Regions from separate parts of the Homo sapiens genome. Here region 2 is linked to region 1. Evidence: fine-mapped expression QTL. Tissue or cell type: thyroid. Region 1 holds a variant in brackets; the other region holds the start of a gene. All regions are shown on one strand. Distances are from middle to middle.

Evidence for each region. PIP is the estimated chance that this variant, and not a neighbour inherited with it, causes the effect.
Region 2: GOLGA6L7 starts here. The variant in region 1 is fine-mapped to the expression of GOLGA6L7 in thyroid (GTEx, PIP 0.99).

What each region holds. Positions count from the first base shown.
Region 1 is chr15:28,785,011-28,793,115 of GRCh38, reverse strand. It overlaps the pseudogene LOC100289656 and the pseudogene PDCD6IPP2. Among named protein-coding and RNA genes, the nearest start is that of GOLGA6L7, 60 kb to the left of the region's middle. The variant C/T (reference allele first, on the strand shown) is at 4,353.
Region 2 is chr15:28,845,067-28,853,171 of GRCh38, reverse strand. It overlaps GOLGA6L7 (golgin A6 family like 7), which reads left to right and starts at 4,528. Exons shown (of 9, transcript NM_001365371.2): 1 at 4,528-4,673; 2 at 5,980-6,108; 3 at 6,923-6,952; 4 at 7,222-7,272; 5 at 7,361-7,454; 6 at 7,537-7,643. The coding sequence starts at 4,623. It also overlaps the pseudogene PDCD6IPP2. RefSeq lists a silencer at 4,260-4,394.

The DNA.
Region 1 (8,105 bases):
GGCTAATGACTGGTAGAGCTGGCATGAAATGTATCAGTCATATTAGGAGGGCATCACACATCCCCATGTAAGATTCAATAGAACTAGGTGCTCACCATATTCTTTCACCTTCCTTGACTACATTAGGACCAATCTGACATTACCAAGAGAAATTAAAATCTACAAAGCATGATCAAAAGCTCAGGTCCACAATTAAGCATGAGAATATACAGAAAACACGGCTAGGACTTTTGGTAAACACCTGGGCAATTTTCACAAGGAAAGGCATGAAAGGGTGCGTGCCCTGGTATGAGCGCCTGAATACAAGGGCCACAACCCAGTCAACCTGGAAATGTCGCCTTTAACTATCATCTCCTCCCTCAAACTCATCATTGTTTCGTCATCATGTCTTACTTGATTCCCTAAGGAGTATTCTCAACCAGAAAAATATTTTTCACGATAATCCTCTCAACTGATAGATACAAATCTATCTTCTCCAAGTTCGAGCAGCAAGTCAATCTTCTGAAGACCTCAATATCCCCTGCACAAATTCATCAAGGGTCCAAATCAAGAGAACTGAGAGGACCTCACTCTAGAGTATAAAAAATTATGGCAAACGTGAGAGCCTCCCCACTCAATTATTCGATGTCCACAGTAAACTGGGGACAAACCTAACCATAACACTGGGACAAGGCACACTTCACAGCACACAATTTCAGGGTATATATCTAACTGTTAGGTTCGTGAAGAATCTTCCCCTTCTACTTTAGGCACTTCTAGACAGTTGGAATTTATTTTTAAACAACAGAACATACATCACTTTTTGGGGGTTAACTTCAAGGATTTTCCTACTGAAAATGAGAAACTTCAGTATCCAGTCACTAACTTTTGTATTCATGAATCTCACAAAAAAAAAAAAATCAAGAAAAGGAAGGAATTTAACCAACTTTCATATTACTCAGAAAAGTCACCAATGAAAACAACAATATCATAGGCTTCTTCATAACTGTGCTAATATTGGTGGGCAACACTGGTCATATAATTTATGGTTGACTAACTCAACAGTTTCATGTCATTTAAGAACAATAAAGATAAACTCACAAGTATTTTCAATAAAACAGAGAAAAGAAATACCTCAAGTTCCACCAGTGCTGCAGTGACTGCGTCAGTTGCAAGAGCACCCGCCTGCAGCTTTTCAATTGCCTATGAAACCAAGGGGAGAGATTATTCATTGCAAAATCACAACTTCCCAAACTTTCCAAAAGCTTAAAGAAGTATGGGAGACACTTAGATTAATAAAAATTGACCACTAGTTCCATTCCATACTTTAAGACATAAACTACTCAGATTAAAAACAAGCAAGTGTTTATATTCAGGTTAATTGGTAATATGGCTCACTTAATATTATTCAAATTAAAACAATAACATCTAGCTATTAAATGAAAAGTACAAGGAATTTAGTAAGCTTAATTCATTGTAAGGCTATTCAAAATAGCCACAGAAATTGTATGACCCAGTTTGGTTCAAATATCCTGACAATTCGTATTTTATATAGATAACTAAATCTCAAACGAATCATTTCTCCTCCCCGTTAATACTCTCCATACCTAAAAAGAAGTGACTCTGAGTCACAGGGGCGCCGGAATCTGAGGATAAAAGCACACATTTGACAAAAACATTTTGGATACTATAATGTAAATTCTAAATCAAGATGTAACATATTATTTTGTAATATAAACTACACAGAATAAAGGTCTATAAAATCACCTGGCCTTGAGCATAAATTAGGAGAGGAAAAGAGAGAGAAGGAAAAGTCATTTATAAATGATTTATTAACATTTCAATTTAGTCAACAAAGAGAAAGCTCAAAAACTAAGAACTGTATTCCTAATTAAACTTTTAAGAAGTGTATTCATTGGAAATATTAAAGAGGCTAAATATACAATTCAAATGTATTAAATTTCTAAGACTATAGTTACATAAAATTTATTTTCAGATGATAGAAAAATTTCACACTTTGAAAAATAAGAAAAAATATAAAACAGCTTAGAGAACTTTTAGCTTTATTGTTATAAATTTCAAAAGAACAAAATCCCTGTAACAAAATATTCTTATTTATAGGGCTTCATTCATAAGAAAAAGCTTGAATCTCTGATAAAGTATAATCTTTTTAATGTTATGTAAATATCAACGAAAAGAGCAGAGAGAGACGCATATTTACTCGATATACAATATTCAACTAGATCCTATTTGCATAAAAAGTAATGGAAGGTTTGCCTACAAGACTAGTAAGAATCAAAATAAAAAACATTTCTTCTGAGTCCATTCCTGTCCCCACATTAAATATTCAACAGTTTAGCAAAACCTCAAAAACCAATGGGAAAAAAGCACAACTGAGTACAAGGGCAAAGCTGAACTCTGGAATGACAATGAACTTGCTATGATACAAACTACGTGATGAAAAACAGAATGAAAAAGTATAGGACAATCTCTCTTAAAAAAGCACCCATTTTAATTTTTTTATTTATTTTTTTCCCTTCATGGAAAAACACACTGACTGCCTTCAAGCTGTTTTCTCTATCCTTCTGTCTACAGAAGTTCAACATCGTTGCAAAGATTAAAAGAGATATGATTGTGTGCCCACAATTACAAAAATACAGACTTTAATCTGGGACGTGGGGAAAGAGCTAAGCATCATGTGGAGAAAGACACAAAACAACACAAAACGATCCCCTACAAAAACAAGCAAAATAATTTTGTAGTCCAAACCGGAAGACTGCCCTAGAAATGAAACTTTTAAATGTTGAATTTCTTTTTTTTTTTTTTTTTTTTGGAGTTGCATACATTTTTTTAATCCAAAGAAGTCAGCCTCCTAAGTATTGCTTAAACAGGTTTATCAGAATTAAGTAGGCACGACACTCATACTTTCAGAAAAGCATTTGCAGCCAGGGGAGTAACGTGGCACTCACCAGCATGATATCTGTTTTGCCAACTTGCTGAGGAACGAGTAACCTGAAATGAAGAAGCGAGAATCTCATCCTCAGCCCCCCAACAGCTTCCTCAGCTTCTTTTTATTCTGAGTCACTCCCTGAAACAGTCGCTGCATCTAAGACCAGCCTCGGGCTAAACCCAGCTGGCCTGAAGGCTCAACTCACATCAAACAGAGCTGGGAGTTGCTTTTGCGTGTGTCCGCAGTTTGAAGTGTCCTCTCCGAAGGTGAAGTGGAGGAAGCAGGTGCGCTCTGGGATGAAGTGCAGGGAGGCAAACTCTGGCTGGGTTCCTGTAAACATCCATGGCAGTTGCAAATAATGAGAAGCCGAGGCCAGGCCATCGGTGTGACGCTGCAGGCAGATGAGGTCTTGGGACGCCCCTTGCGTTCCCCCTTCTGTGGGAGCAGGTGCCTTCCCAATCTCAGCACTCAGTCCCAATCTCTCTTCCACTCTCCTGGGTCCAAACAGGAACCTCTCTGTTGGCACGAAGCTTTTGAGGGTAGCAGGCAGGCCTCGGAGGCAGGGGAGGGTCTCCTCCTGGGGAACCATCCCCGTCCAGATGGTGCCCCCAACCAGCTGCTGCGGCGCCATGATCTGGGCGGCTGGTCCAGGGCGTGGGTTGCGGATCGTGGAGGGAAGAGGGGAACGGCAGTCGAGACCCTACTCCAAGTACCCATCAAAGACGTCGAGCTCCGAGTCAGCATCGTAAAGGCCCGAGCCGGGGTCGGAGAGCACGCCGAGGTCCACGAGCGCCTGGTCCATGTCCTCGAACAGGAAGACGAGGCCCACGTTGAGGACGATGTACTCCATGAGGAAGGCGTAGTACAGGATCAGCACATTGACGAAGAACAGGCCCACGTAGAACATAGAGGGCAGCAGCGGCGGCGGCACGTAGGGGACCAGGGGGCCCAGTGCGTCCAGGTGGGCCGCGACCCGGGCGCCGAGCATGCAGCCGGTGGCAAGGGCGGCGGCGGCCCGGCGATCCCGGCGAACTCAGCCGCTGTGGCGCCCGGGCCGCCGGCGAGGGCACAGCGCAGCCATCCAGGGGTACCCTGGAGCCCGACAGAAGCAGGGCCGGGCTCCAGATGTCCCCTGGCAAATGCGCCCCGACCCCCGAAATGCGCCGGGCGGGTCACCGCACCCCGAGATGTGCCCCCAAGGCTCTTTCGACCGCCCTGAAGTGGCGGGCCCCCCTGAAGTGGCCGGCGGCTGCCCGGCTCCCTCGAGGCGCCTCCCTGGCGCTCGCAGGGCCTCGCAGAGCCGGCGGGGATCCCACCGCGGCTCAGTGTCTAGGGCCGGTCCCGGCAGCCCTCTCTCCCGCCCGGCCCCGCAGGTCCTAGCGTCGCCCTCCCCCCCGCGCCCCTGCAGGCCCAGCACCCATGG[C/T]TGCGGCCGCGGCGTCGCCCTCCGAGTCGCGCTCAGAGCCACTGCTTTATGTTCAAAACTGAAAAGCATAGATGATACACATTGCGTTGATACTCTCTGACAAGCTCGTTTGCATACATGTTTATATTCCTTGGCTTTGGATTCAGAATGATAAACTGCACCTATAGTAGAAAATAAAATCCAGTTGTTAATTGTTAAAATATCAAGAGACCTTGCTTATGTTATATAAATACTCCAATAAACTGATGCTGTCCTAGTAAAAAACAAAACTATTGCCCTAACTGTATGGAGTTTTATGATTTCTTTCTCCAATGTAAGCCTTTTTAATACCATGCCTTATCTCCGTTTTCAAAAGCTCTTTTCCTGCCAAAAGCCCTAAAAATAGCTCATGTCCCCAGAGGCTTCACCAAGGTCACCTCCCCTCTTCTTTTCAAGAAGCTTTTTCCAAATCAGGAGTTCTTTTGATCTGGAGCTAACAACCCAGAAGGTGTCAGGGACAGGGTCCCTCCAGGTTCCTCTCTGCTGAAAGCCCCTGCCATTTGGGAAGTTACTGTTTCAAATCCAGAATTCATAAGAATAATTCAGAAAGCTGGATTGCTTCTGAACAACATTGGAAGTTGAGGCATCTTACATCTCACATGTCCACAACCACCACCAATTGCACCATTCCTAACCAAACACTTCACGTCCTCTCAATAAAGTTGCTAGATTAGTCTCATTTCTTAAAAAGCTGTTTTTTGACAAAATGGGAGAAAATTTTCGCAACCTACTCATCTCACAAAGGACTAATATCCAGAATCTACAATGAACTCCAACAAATTTACAAGAAAAATACAAGCAACCCCATCAAAAAGTGGGCAAAGGATATGAACAGACACTTCTCAAAAGAAGACATTTATGCAGCCAAAAAGCACATGAAGAAATGCTCATCATCACTGGCCATCAGAGAAATGCAAATCAAAACCACAATGAGATACCATCTCACACCAGTTAGAATGGCGATCATTAAAAAGTCAGGAAACAACAGGTGCTGGAGAGGATGTGGAGAAATAGGAACACTTTTACACTGTTGGTGGGACTGTAAACTAGTTCAACCACTGTGGAAGTCAGTGTGTCTAGATCCTCAGGGATCTAGAACTAGAAATACCATTTGACCCAGCCATCCCATTACTGGGTATATACCCAAAGGACTATAAATCATGCTGCTATAAAGACACATGCACACATATGTTTATTGCGGCATTATTCACAATAGCAAAGACTTGGAACCAACCCAAATGTCTAACAATGATAGACTGGATTAAGAAAAGGTGGCATATATACACCAACGAATGCTATGCAGCCATAAAAAAATGATGAGTTCACGTCCTTTGTAGGGACATGGATGAAACTGGAAACCATCATTCTCAGCAAACTATCGCAAGGACAAAAAAACAAACACCGCATGTTCTCACTCATAGGTGGGAATTGAAGAATGAGAACACATAGACACAGGAAGGGGAACATCACACACCGGGGACTGTTGTGGGGTGGGGGGAGGGGGAGGGATAGCATTAGGAGGTATACCTAATGCTAAATGACAAGTGAATGGGTGCAGCACACCAACATGGCACATGTATACATATGGAACTAACCTGTACTTTGTGCACATCTACCCTAAAACTTAAAGTATAAGAATAATAAAATTTTTTTAAAAAGTTGCTTTTTGGTAGTTTATATGTAACACTGTAGTTCTATATGTACTTGCAAATAGCTATAGTACCAGTAAAAAATGTGATAAAATGAAACTCACATATGCCAAAAATACTTTGATTTAGCGCTTCATTAAGTGCATGATTATCTGCATCTTTTGATTTACCTATCTTTACAATTTTCAGCTGAGATACTTAGAGGTCACATAGTAAATTAAGGTTTTCTTTTTTTAAAATAATCTCCATCTTTCTAAATTTGGTGAGTCCAGTAAGTTATTTTTGAGATGTTGAAATCTGTGGCTTTGTTCTAAACTTGAGCACAGAAATCATGCCACTTACGAAATATGCTTTGTCTTCCAACATCAGAGTGTCTGGTAGAAGGTGACTGTTCTTGGAATTTAAAAAATCTTAACAGGAAAAGACAAGAATCTGGACACTTTTTCTGTTTCTGATAATATGGCTGAGTAGGTAGACATGCTGGCTAGTCCTTGCATAGATCAAGACATACTTGAACTTGCCAAAAAAAATAAAAAATCCAGAGTCTCTAAGAATGAAGATGAAGTGAAAATCAGAAGGGCTATTGAGAGAGTAATGGGGAAGCAGCCCCAGTTATCAAGGGACGTGTGCATGTGTTCATTAAAAAGTTTCAGATGTAAAAAAAGTTGAGAAAAATAATGTAACTGCCCTACATATACACATCATCAACAATTTTTCATTCATGGCATGGACAGTTTTTTGTTTTTGTTGGTTTTTTGTTGTTTGTTTTTAAAGGTGGGATTTTGCTGTGGTCGCCCAGGCTGGAGTGCAGTGTCATGATCTTGGCTCACTGCAAATTCTGCCTCTCAGGTTCAAGCGATTCTCCTGCCTCAGCCTCCCAAGTAGCTGGGATTACAGGCACCCGGCACCACATCCGGCTAACTGTTGTATTTTTAGTAGAGATGATGTTTCACCACGTTGGCCAGGCTGGTCTTGAACTCCTGACCTCAGGTGATCCACCTGCCTCAGTCTCCCAAAGTGCTGGGATTACAGGCGTGAGCCACCACACCTGGCCACAGCCAGTTTTGTTTCATTTATATTCCCACTTCATTTATATGCATTCCTTCTTCCTCTGAATTATTTTGAAGTAAAATCTATACATCATATCATTTTTTAATTACCGTATATGTATCTGCAGAAGACAAGGAATTTTTAAAAATAAATATATTCACAATGCCATTAAATACCAAAAAAATTAATATTCTGAAAATAGCCACAAATCCAGAGTTCACATTTTCTTGACTTTCTCATAGGTGATTTTTCTTCTAGGTTTTCTATTTAATCAGGTAACTGTTTGCTCATATTTACATTCCTTACTGAACAATGTCTAAACTTAAACTGACATAAAACGCACATGATCTTCTGACCAAATGCTTAGTGCAAGAAAAAACTTCAAACTGCAAGACGAGTCCCTCCAAATATAGAAAGGACCAGTATTTTAGGAGGTATGTTAACTAAAATGTGGCAATGTAAGGAGCAAAACAGGAAGAACCTTTAAGTCCTAAACTTACAAGTCAATTTCCTAGTCAGTTTCCATGGTCCTTCCACAACAACCTCTGGCATCTGTATTCTCTACAATGGAGGTAACAATAGTAGCTATTTCAGAGCAGGAAAAGGCTTAGAGCAGTGCTGCAAGAGGGTCGTGGCTATATAAAGTTTAGCTATTTGTATATTGTAACAAACCCCCTTTTTTTTTTTTTTTGTCAATAATAGATTTCTTTTGGAAAAGTAGCAGCCTCCTGTCTGGGGACAACTGCAGTTCCACTAAGTGAACATTGGTGTCTGCTCGCCTTTGCCTCTATTTCTCTCAATAATATACTGTCAAGCTGTTCCTTGATTTAGCAATTTTATGTACTTTCTTTTTCTTCTTTTTTTTTTTTCCTGTTTTCCTGAGACACAGTCCCGCTCTATCGCCCAGTTTGGACTGCAGCAGCGCCAACATGGCTCACTGCCACCTCACCCCCACCCCTCTCCGGCTCAAGCAATCCTCCTACATCAGCCTTCAGAGTAGCTGGGACTACCCGCC
Region 2 (8,105 bases), 60 kb before region 1:
AACAAAGCTTAACAAACGAAAAAAAGAAATAAGTTGACGATGATTGTGGGAAAGTTTCATATCTGTGTCTCAGCCACTGAAAAATAGACAAACATCAGTAAGGAAATAGAATCTTTAAAGGATGCATTTAACACGCTCCGTCTAATTGAGATACGTGGTACACTACGCTCAACATGCAGAATACATATCCTTTTCAAGTGCAGAAGCAATATTTATAAAAATTAATCATATTTTTAATCATTGAGAAGACACAAATTCCAAAGAGTTTTAGTTATACAAATATTTAATCACAGTGGAAGTGTAAGTTTGGAAATTAAGCAAAACATTTTTAGTATGGTAAAGGGATGAATAAAATCAAAGTTTGCTTTTTTGAAACACTGATAAAATTGATGGCCCCCAGCAAGATTGATTAACAAAACAGACAAAAGGCACAAATTCTAACCGCACACCTTATAAGTATTAAAAAGATAAATGAATAATAGAACAACTTTGAAATTTTAGATAAAATGAACAAATTGATTCAGCAAACACAGGTTACCGAAATGAATATTCATATATATGTAATTGAACCTGTAATTAAACACCTTATAAAGAAAACTACAGTCTCACATGGCTTAATAAGTGAATTCTTTCCAAATGCTTAAGGAAGAAATAGCACACATCTTACATAAACTCTGTCAGAAATAGGAGAAGAAACATTTCTCAAATTGTCTAACCAGCATAGCTTTAATACTTCATATTAAAACCTCACAAGTCTGGGTGCAGTGGCTCACGCCTGTAATCCCAGCACTTTGGGAGGCTGAGGCGGGTGGATCACGAGGTCAGGAGATCGAGACCATCCTGGCTAACACGGTGAAACCCCGTCTCTACTAAAAAAATACAATAAATTAGCCAGGGGTGGTGGTGGGCGCCTATAGTCCCAACTACTCGGGAGGCTGAAGCAGGAGAATGGCGTGAACCCGGAAGGCGGAGCTTGCAATGAGCCGAGATCATGCCACTGCATTCCAGCCTGGACAACAGGGCGAGACTCCGTGGCAAAAAAAAAAAAAAAAAAAAAAAAAACACACAGAAAAACTTAGACTCCACTTTCTCTTGTGAACGTAAGTACAAAACTACCAAATGAACTAGGAGCAAACCCATCTCAACCATATATAATATGGTATTAATCATTTATCACAACAAAGTTGATTTAATTCCAAAATGCAATGTTCAACATTCAAAAGCCAATCACTGTTAAGTTACCTTATCAACATAAAAAGATAAGAAAAAACACTGCTCAATCAAGAAAGAAAAAAGCAATTGATACAATTCAGTACCTATTCATAAATCTTAAAACCTGTGTAACAGAGAGGAAGCAACATGTGAGTTAAACACTCCCCCAGCTGAGAATAGTGACATAACTTATTTGCAGCCAAAAGATGAAAATTGCAGGCCAGGCGCAGTGGCTCATGCCTCTAATTCCAGCACTTTGGGAGGCAGAGGTGGGCGGATCACAAGGTCTGGAGTTCAAAACCAGCCTGGCCAACATGGTGAAATCTCGTCTCTACTAAAAATACAAATAGAAATGAGTCGGGCGTGGTGTCATGCGCCTGTATTCCTAGCTATTAGGGAGGCTGAGGTAGGAGAATCACTTGAACCATGGAGGCGGACATTATGACAGTGAGCCGAGATTGTGCCACTGCACTCCAGCCTGGCAACAGAGCAAGACTGCGTTTCAAAAAAAAAAAAAAAAAAAAGGATGAAAATTGAATTGCAGTATAATTTTACAACTTTTGAGAAATCTGTGTTTTTCAGCTAAAAAGAGACAAACTCAGCCTTTTGACCTTTCATCTTTCCCTCCTTGGAAGGCAATCCAAGGCCTGGAAAAACAGCAGCCACATTGTGACCACAAGAATAGAAACCAGGCTAAGGAAGTATCAGGAAACTGAAAAGAACCCTGGACTGCCTTCCTCTGCACGTTTTAAGTGACAAAAATGAAATCTATATTTCTTTAAGTCACTGAATCAGATTTATTCTTTCTGTGGCTACATGTAGCCCTAAATGATGTATTAAATACTAAAATAAATACTAAAATACACACTAAAATACTAAAATTTTGGTCTTGACTCCTGATCTCAGGTGATATGCCCATCTCAGCCTACCAATGTGCTGGGATGACAGGCATGAGCCACCACACCCACCTCAAAAGCTTTGTGTTTTAAAATATATTAGACATATCTCTAGTTTAAAAAAAAAAAAAACTTAACAATAATGTAGGAGAATAAGAGAAACTTTTTCCAAAAAAGAGAAATCACTGTGATTATTTTATCTTATTGGAATGTTGGATAATATAATCTGCTTTACTAATCATTAAGCACGCTGTAAATTTTCCATTACAACAGGATTTGTACCTCAACTAAGGTGATAAAGTTTTAAAGTTTAGAAAGTGAGTCCCTCTCCCTCTCCCTCTCCCTCTCCCTCTCCCCACGGTCTCCCTCTCCCTCTCCCCACGGTCTCCCTCTCCCTCTCCCTCTCCCCACGGTCTCCCTCTCCCTCTCTTTCCACGGTCTCCCTCTGATGCTGTGCCGAAGCTGGACTGTACTGCTGCCATCTCGGCTCACTGCAACCTCCCTGCCTGATTCTCCTGCCTCAGCCTGCCGAGTGCCTGCGATTGCAGGCGCGCGCCGCCACGCCTGACTGGTTTTCGTATTTTTTTGGTGGAGACGGGGTTTCGCTGTGTTGGCCGGGCTGGTCTCCAGCTCCTAACCGCGAGTGATCTGCCAGCCTCGGCCTCCCGAGGTGCCGGGATTGCAGACGGAGTCTGGTTCACTCAGCGCTCAATGGTGCCCAGGCTGGAGTGCAGTGGCGTGATCTCGGCTCGCTACAACCTCCACCTCCCAGCCGCCTGCCTTGGCCCCCCAAAGTGCCGAGATTGCAGCCTCTGCCCGGCTGCCACCCCGTCTGGGAAGTGAGGAGCGTCTCTGCCTGGCCGCCCATCGTCTGGGAAGTGAGGAGCGTCTCTGCCTGGCTGCCCATCGTCTGGGATGTGAGGAGCCCCTCTGCCTGGCTGCCCAGTCTGGAAAATGAGGAGCGCCTCTTCCCGGCCGCCATCCCATCTAGGAAGTGAGGAGCGCCTCTGCCCGGCCGCCCATCGTCTGAGATGTGGGGAGCGCCTCTGCCCCGCCACCCCGTCTGGGATGTGAGGAGCGCCTCTACCCGGCCGCGACCCCGCCTGGAAGGTGAGGAGCGTCTCTGCCCGGCCGCCCCGTCTGAGAAGTGAGGAGACCCTCCGCCTGGCAACCGCCCCATCTGAGAAGTGAGGAGCCCCTCCACCCGGCAGCCGCCCCGTCAGAGAAGTGAGGAGCCCCTCCGCCCGGCAGCCACCCCGTCTGGGAAGTGAGGAGCGTCTCCGCCCGGCAGCCACCCCGTCCGGGAGGGAGGTGGGGGTCAACCCCCGCCCGGCCAGCCGCCCCGTCCGGGAGGGAGGTGGGGGGGTCAGCCCCCCGCCTGGCCAGCCGCCCCGTCCGGGAGGTGAGGGGCGCCTCTGCCCGGCCGCCCCTACTGGGAAGTGAGGAGCCCCTCTGCCCGGCCAGCCACCCCGTCCGGGAGGGAGGTGGGGGGGTCAGCCCCCCGCCCAGCCAGTCGCCCCGTCCGGGAGGTGAGGGGCGCCTCTGCCCGGCTGCCCCTACTGGGAAGTGAGGAGCCCCTCTGCCTGGCCGCCACCCCGTCTGGGAGGTGTGCCCAGCAGCTCATTGAGAATGGGCCATGATGACAATGGCGGTTTTGTAGAATAGAAAGGGGGGAAAGGTGGGGAAAAGATTGAGAGGTTGGATGGTTGCCGTGTCTGTGTAGAGGGAGGTAGACATGGGAGACTTCTCATTTTGTTCTGTACTAAGAAAAATTATTCTGCCTTGGGATCCTGTTGATCTGTGACCTTACCCCCAACCCTGTGCTCTCTGAAACATGTGCTGTGTCCACTCAGGGTTAAATGGATTAAGGGCGGTGCAAGATGTGCTTTGTTAAACAGATGTTTGAAGGCAGCATGCTCGTTAAAAGTCATCACCACTCTCTAATCTCAAGTACCCCGGGACACAAACACTGCAGAAGGCCGTAGGGTCCTCTGCCTAGGAAAACCAGAGACCTTTGTTCACTTGTTTATCTGCTGACCTTCCCTCCACTATTGTCCTATGACCCTGCCAAATCCCCCTCTGCGAGAAACACCCAATGATCAATTAAAAAAAACAAAACAAAACAAAACAAAAAAAAACATTATATTATCGACTATACCTTAAATTATAATAAAAAGTTATATATGTAAAAAAAAAAAAAAGTAAGTGAAAGCCAGCCCCGCCCCTCTCCCAGAGTGGGCGGGGACAGCAGTTCCATGGGAGGCTTTCCTTGTGACATCACAGGACCTTCATGACCCGCAGCTGCCTGGCCCCGCCTCCTTTCCCTTTCATCTTTCTCATTGACCAATGGGCTTGGAGCATTAAGGCCACGCCCCTTTTCCGCATTCTAGTGCAGCCCCGGTGACGCCTCCTGTGGCTCAGTCACATAGCTGTGTGGTACGTGACTGGAGGCATATCACTGTCCTCGCCTGGATCACGCCAATGTGACCCCAACCCCACCACCCTCCCCACCCCATGATGTCCGAAAAAACCCAACAAAGAAAATTGGCTGGGACCAAGAAAAAGGTAAAACGCATCGGATTGCAGCACCCCAACCCCAACCCAGCCCCAGGTCCCCTCTGATGGCAGAACAGCTGCCAGAATCCGTGTCACTCCAGAGGCACGCAGGGCCGGGCCCCCCCCAGTGCCTCTGGGCTCCCCCAACCAAAATCTTGTGTCAGCCCCAACCCCTCAGCAGTCCTGCCCCTGCCCTCACCGGTCACCCCAGGGTGACTTTCAGCCGGTGACTCGTGGGGCTCCCTGCTTTGTACTCTGCCCTCACCTCCTATTGTCCAAAAATGGATCTCCCTGGGCCCTTCGGGCTCACGTTCCCAAGGAACCGGATGCCCCAGCACCTGCCCTCACCAGTCACCCCAGGGTGACTTTGGGCAGGTGACTCCTGGGGCTCCCCACTCCATACTCGGCCCTCACCTACCGCTGCCCCAAGCCTGACTTCCCTGGGCTCTTTGGGCTCACGTCTCCAAGTACCTGGGTCCCAACCCTGTGACCCCATGCCAATCTCAAAGAGGCAACTTGGGCACAGCACTGATGGGATAATGGGTTTGGTTTGGTTTTCTCCCAGGCTTCTACTCTCCAGAGAGACTTTAACAGTTTTTTCTAAGTTCTCCACTTCATATTTGAATTCTCCATGGTTCTGGGACCAGAGTGCCCATCAGTCAGTGATCTTTGAAGTGAGATTTGCTCATCTTCTGTGCAAGAGATCTTGGGAAACTGGACTTGACAACTTGAATCTTCCTCATCTCATCTCAACCTGGGGTACTTTGAGTGCCACAGGATACATATGGGGCATCTTTCTGAAGCATCAGTTTTCCTTGATTCTCGTGGGAGACACAAAACATTAATGTTCTTAGGGATGATAGTCACATAGATTTCAAAGAGTATACAAGACTTCTCTCTGAAATGCAGCTTGGGTTGTCCTCTTTCTGTTTAATTCCCACATTTAACAGAAAGGCTGCCTTCTGCCCTGAGGATACATGACTCTAAGAGGATGTACGACTGTAAACCACACAGTGTACACCTTCCTGCCTACTTTTTACTTTTCTACCTCTGCCTCTGGTTTTGGTCTCTGGCAGCTGCTGATTTGTGGCAACACCCCAGAGCTCAGAGTCAGAAGACTGAGTTTCAGTTCCATTATTGCCTTTCTTTTAGCCATGGTATCAATCCCTCTCAGTCACTAAGTGATTGCGACAACACCTCGTACAGTCGTTGGTGGCATTAAGTCAGATCGTCTATGAGAGTATTTTGTATAAACTGTAAAGTGACTGTAGGAGCTTGTAGTTCTCATGAGTATCACTGCTCCTCTTTTCCACAGTTTACAGACTATCATCAGTGGAACAGTGCTGGTGTTGGTACCGGAGCAACCGACACCAAAAAGAAGAAAATAAATCATGGCGCTAACCCTGAGACAACCACTTCGGGGGGCTGCCACTCGCCTGAGGATGTGAGTCTTGGCTGGCCGGTCTCCTGAGGACAAGGGGCACAAGGGGGAGGTCGAGGGTAACTGTTAAGATTGTGGAAGGAAGAACTGCTGGGTACTGGCTAAGAATTCTGGGTTTGAGTCCTACTTCTCTCTCCAACTGCGAGGGACACGGTTTAGGGAAAATTGCTCGAGCTCTTTGGGCCTCTCTTTTCACATCTGTAAAATGGGGATGGTAATGTTTTACTTACATGTGTGAAGCTTAAATCAGATTTGTTGCTGTTGTTTTTGTGTTAATCCCTAGTCCAGGGCCTGCTGTAAGCTCCCCTCCTCTTTGGGCTTCCGTTTCCTGAGGAGGTAGAGTTAGAGTATCAGAGGTTCTGTTTGCTCTGAGAGTCTGAGATTTAAAGATTCACTAGAATGGAAACCTTGGGGCCAAGGGCTCCTGTCTGCCTTTTCCGTCCTATATCCCAGCAGTGAAGAACCGTCCCCGGCCCCTATGTGCTTGCTCAATGCTTGTTGAATGAACACATCTTTCTCCATCACAAGCTGGCAGAAGGGTGGGCTTTTCTCACACTCTTATGTCGGAAGGTTTATGTTACTGTCTTTTCCAGAGAATCTAGTTTCAGACTTTCAGTTCTGTGGCTGTGGGCAAAAGCCAACAAAGACCCAAATCCTTTTTCTTTGGGCGTTAAGGAAAGTTGACCAGTTTGTGTTCCCATTGGGTCTGAGAACTTTGCCCTTAAAATCCATTCCTGACCCCTGCCTACCGCTTCCTGGCCTGGGGAATAGAGTCGAGGGACCACCCTCAGTCACCTTCCTTTGACTCTCCCCACAGAAACAACAGAACCGAGCTCAGCTGAAAGAGGTAACATGGTTTCTTTCTTTGCTCACGACATGACCGCTGGGTTTGGGGGGCACTCAGATGTAGAGGCCCCAGTCTCGTCTCGCCTACTCCCAGCTTGGGGAGGAAGGCTCACCTCCCAGCTTCCACCCCATCCCCACAGGGTCCCTGATAACCTGGTCCCATGGGTGGGCCTGTCCTGGGACAGTGGGGCCATTCTGGGGGCATGTCTCTTGCTGTGCCATCTCTGCCTCCCTCTAGTAAGAGCTCTGTCTTCCTCTTCTTTTCTATAGGAAAATAAGGCAAGCCACCAACATCAGCAAGCCCTAAGGAGGCAGCTAGAGGTGAGTGGAGGGTGTGAAGTTCCCTCCTGTCCTCTGGAGAAGGTTTCTTTGCTTCTCTTTCAGCACTTGCTTTTCTTGTCTCCCAAAGGCCCAGGATCATACCATACGAATCCTTATGTGTCAGAAAACTGAACTGGAGACAGCGCTCCATGACAGCCAGGATGCTGCCAGGAAATTTGAAGGTGGGAATCTGGGCACCCCGTCATCCTTCAACCTGGCACTTTCACAGGCCTTTGGGCTGCAGCTCAACCTCTCTCATTCCAGAAGATTCCAAGGATCTGGCAGCCCGCCTGCATCATTCCTGGCACTTTGCAGGAGAGTTACAGCGGGCTCTCTCTGCTATGTCCGCAGAGCACGAGAGGGCGGACAAGGTGAGTCCAACCACCTACCCGGTCCCCTGGGAGCCCAGCTTCGCAGATGGAGGAATGAGCCTAAAGGTCCCTTCTGCAGGATGCAGTGTCCTGCCCAGAAGACAGCATGGGCCATTTCTTGCTGCTTTTGTGCGTGGTTGTTAGAGGCAGGTTGGGGCTGAGTCAGCTGCTGTGGGTGAGTTGCGGGGCGCTGTGGGGAGCGAGCACTGGACACAGAGCTCGGAGGCCAAGTGCCCACCCCACCCATACTTGGCTGTGGCCTTGGTCAAATCCTAGGCGGAGTTGAGGGTACTTGTACCATGAAGGTACAGAAGAGTATCTTTAGTATGTTACCATTTGTGTAGAGAGAGGGAACACATGTACGTGTGTGTGTGTGTGTGTGTGTGTGTGTGTGTGTGTGTGTACGTACGTATTATGGTAATATACATAAAACATGTTTGTAAGGATTCATAAAAAACTCAG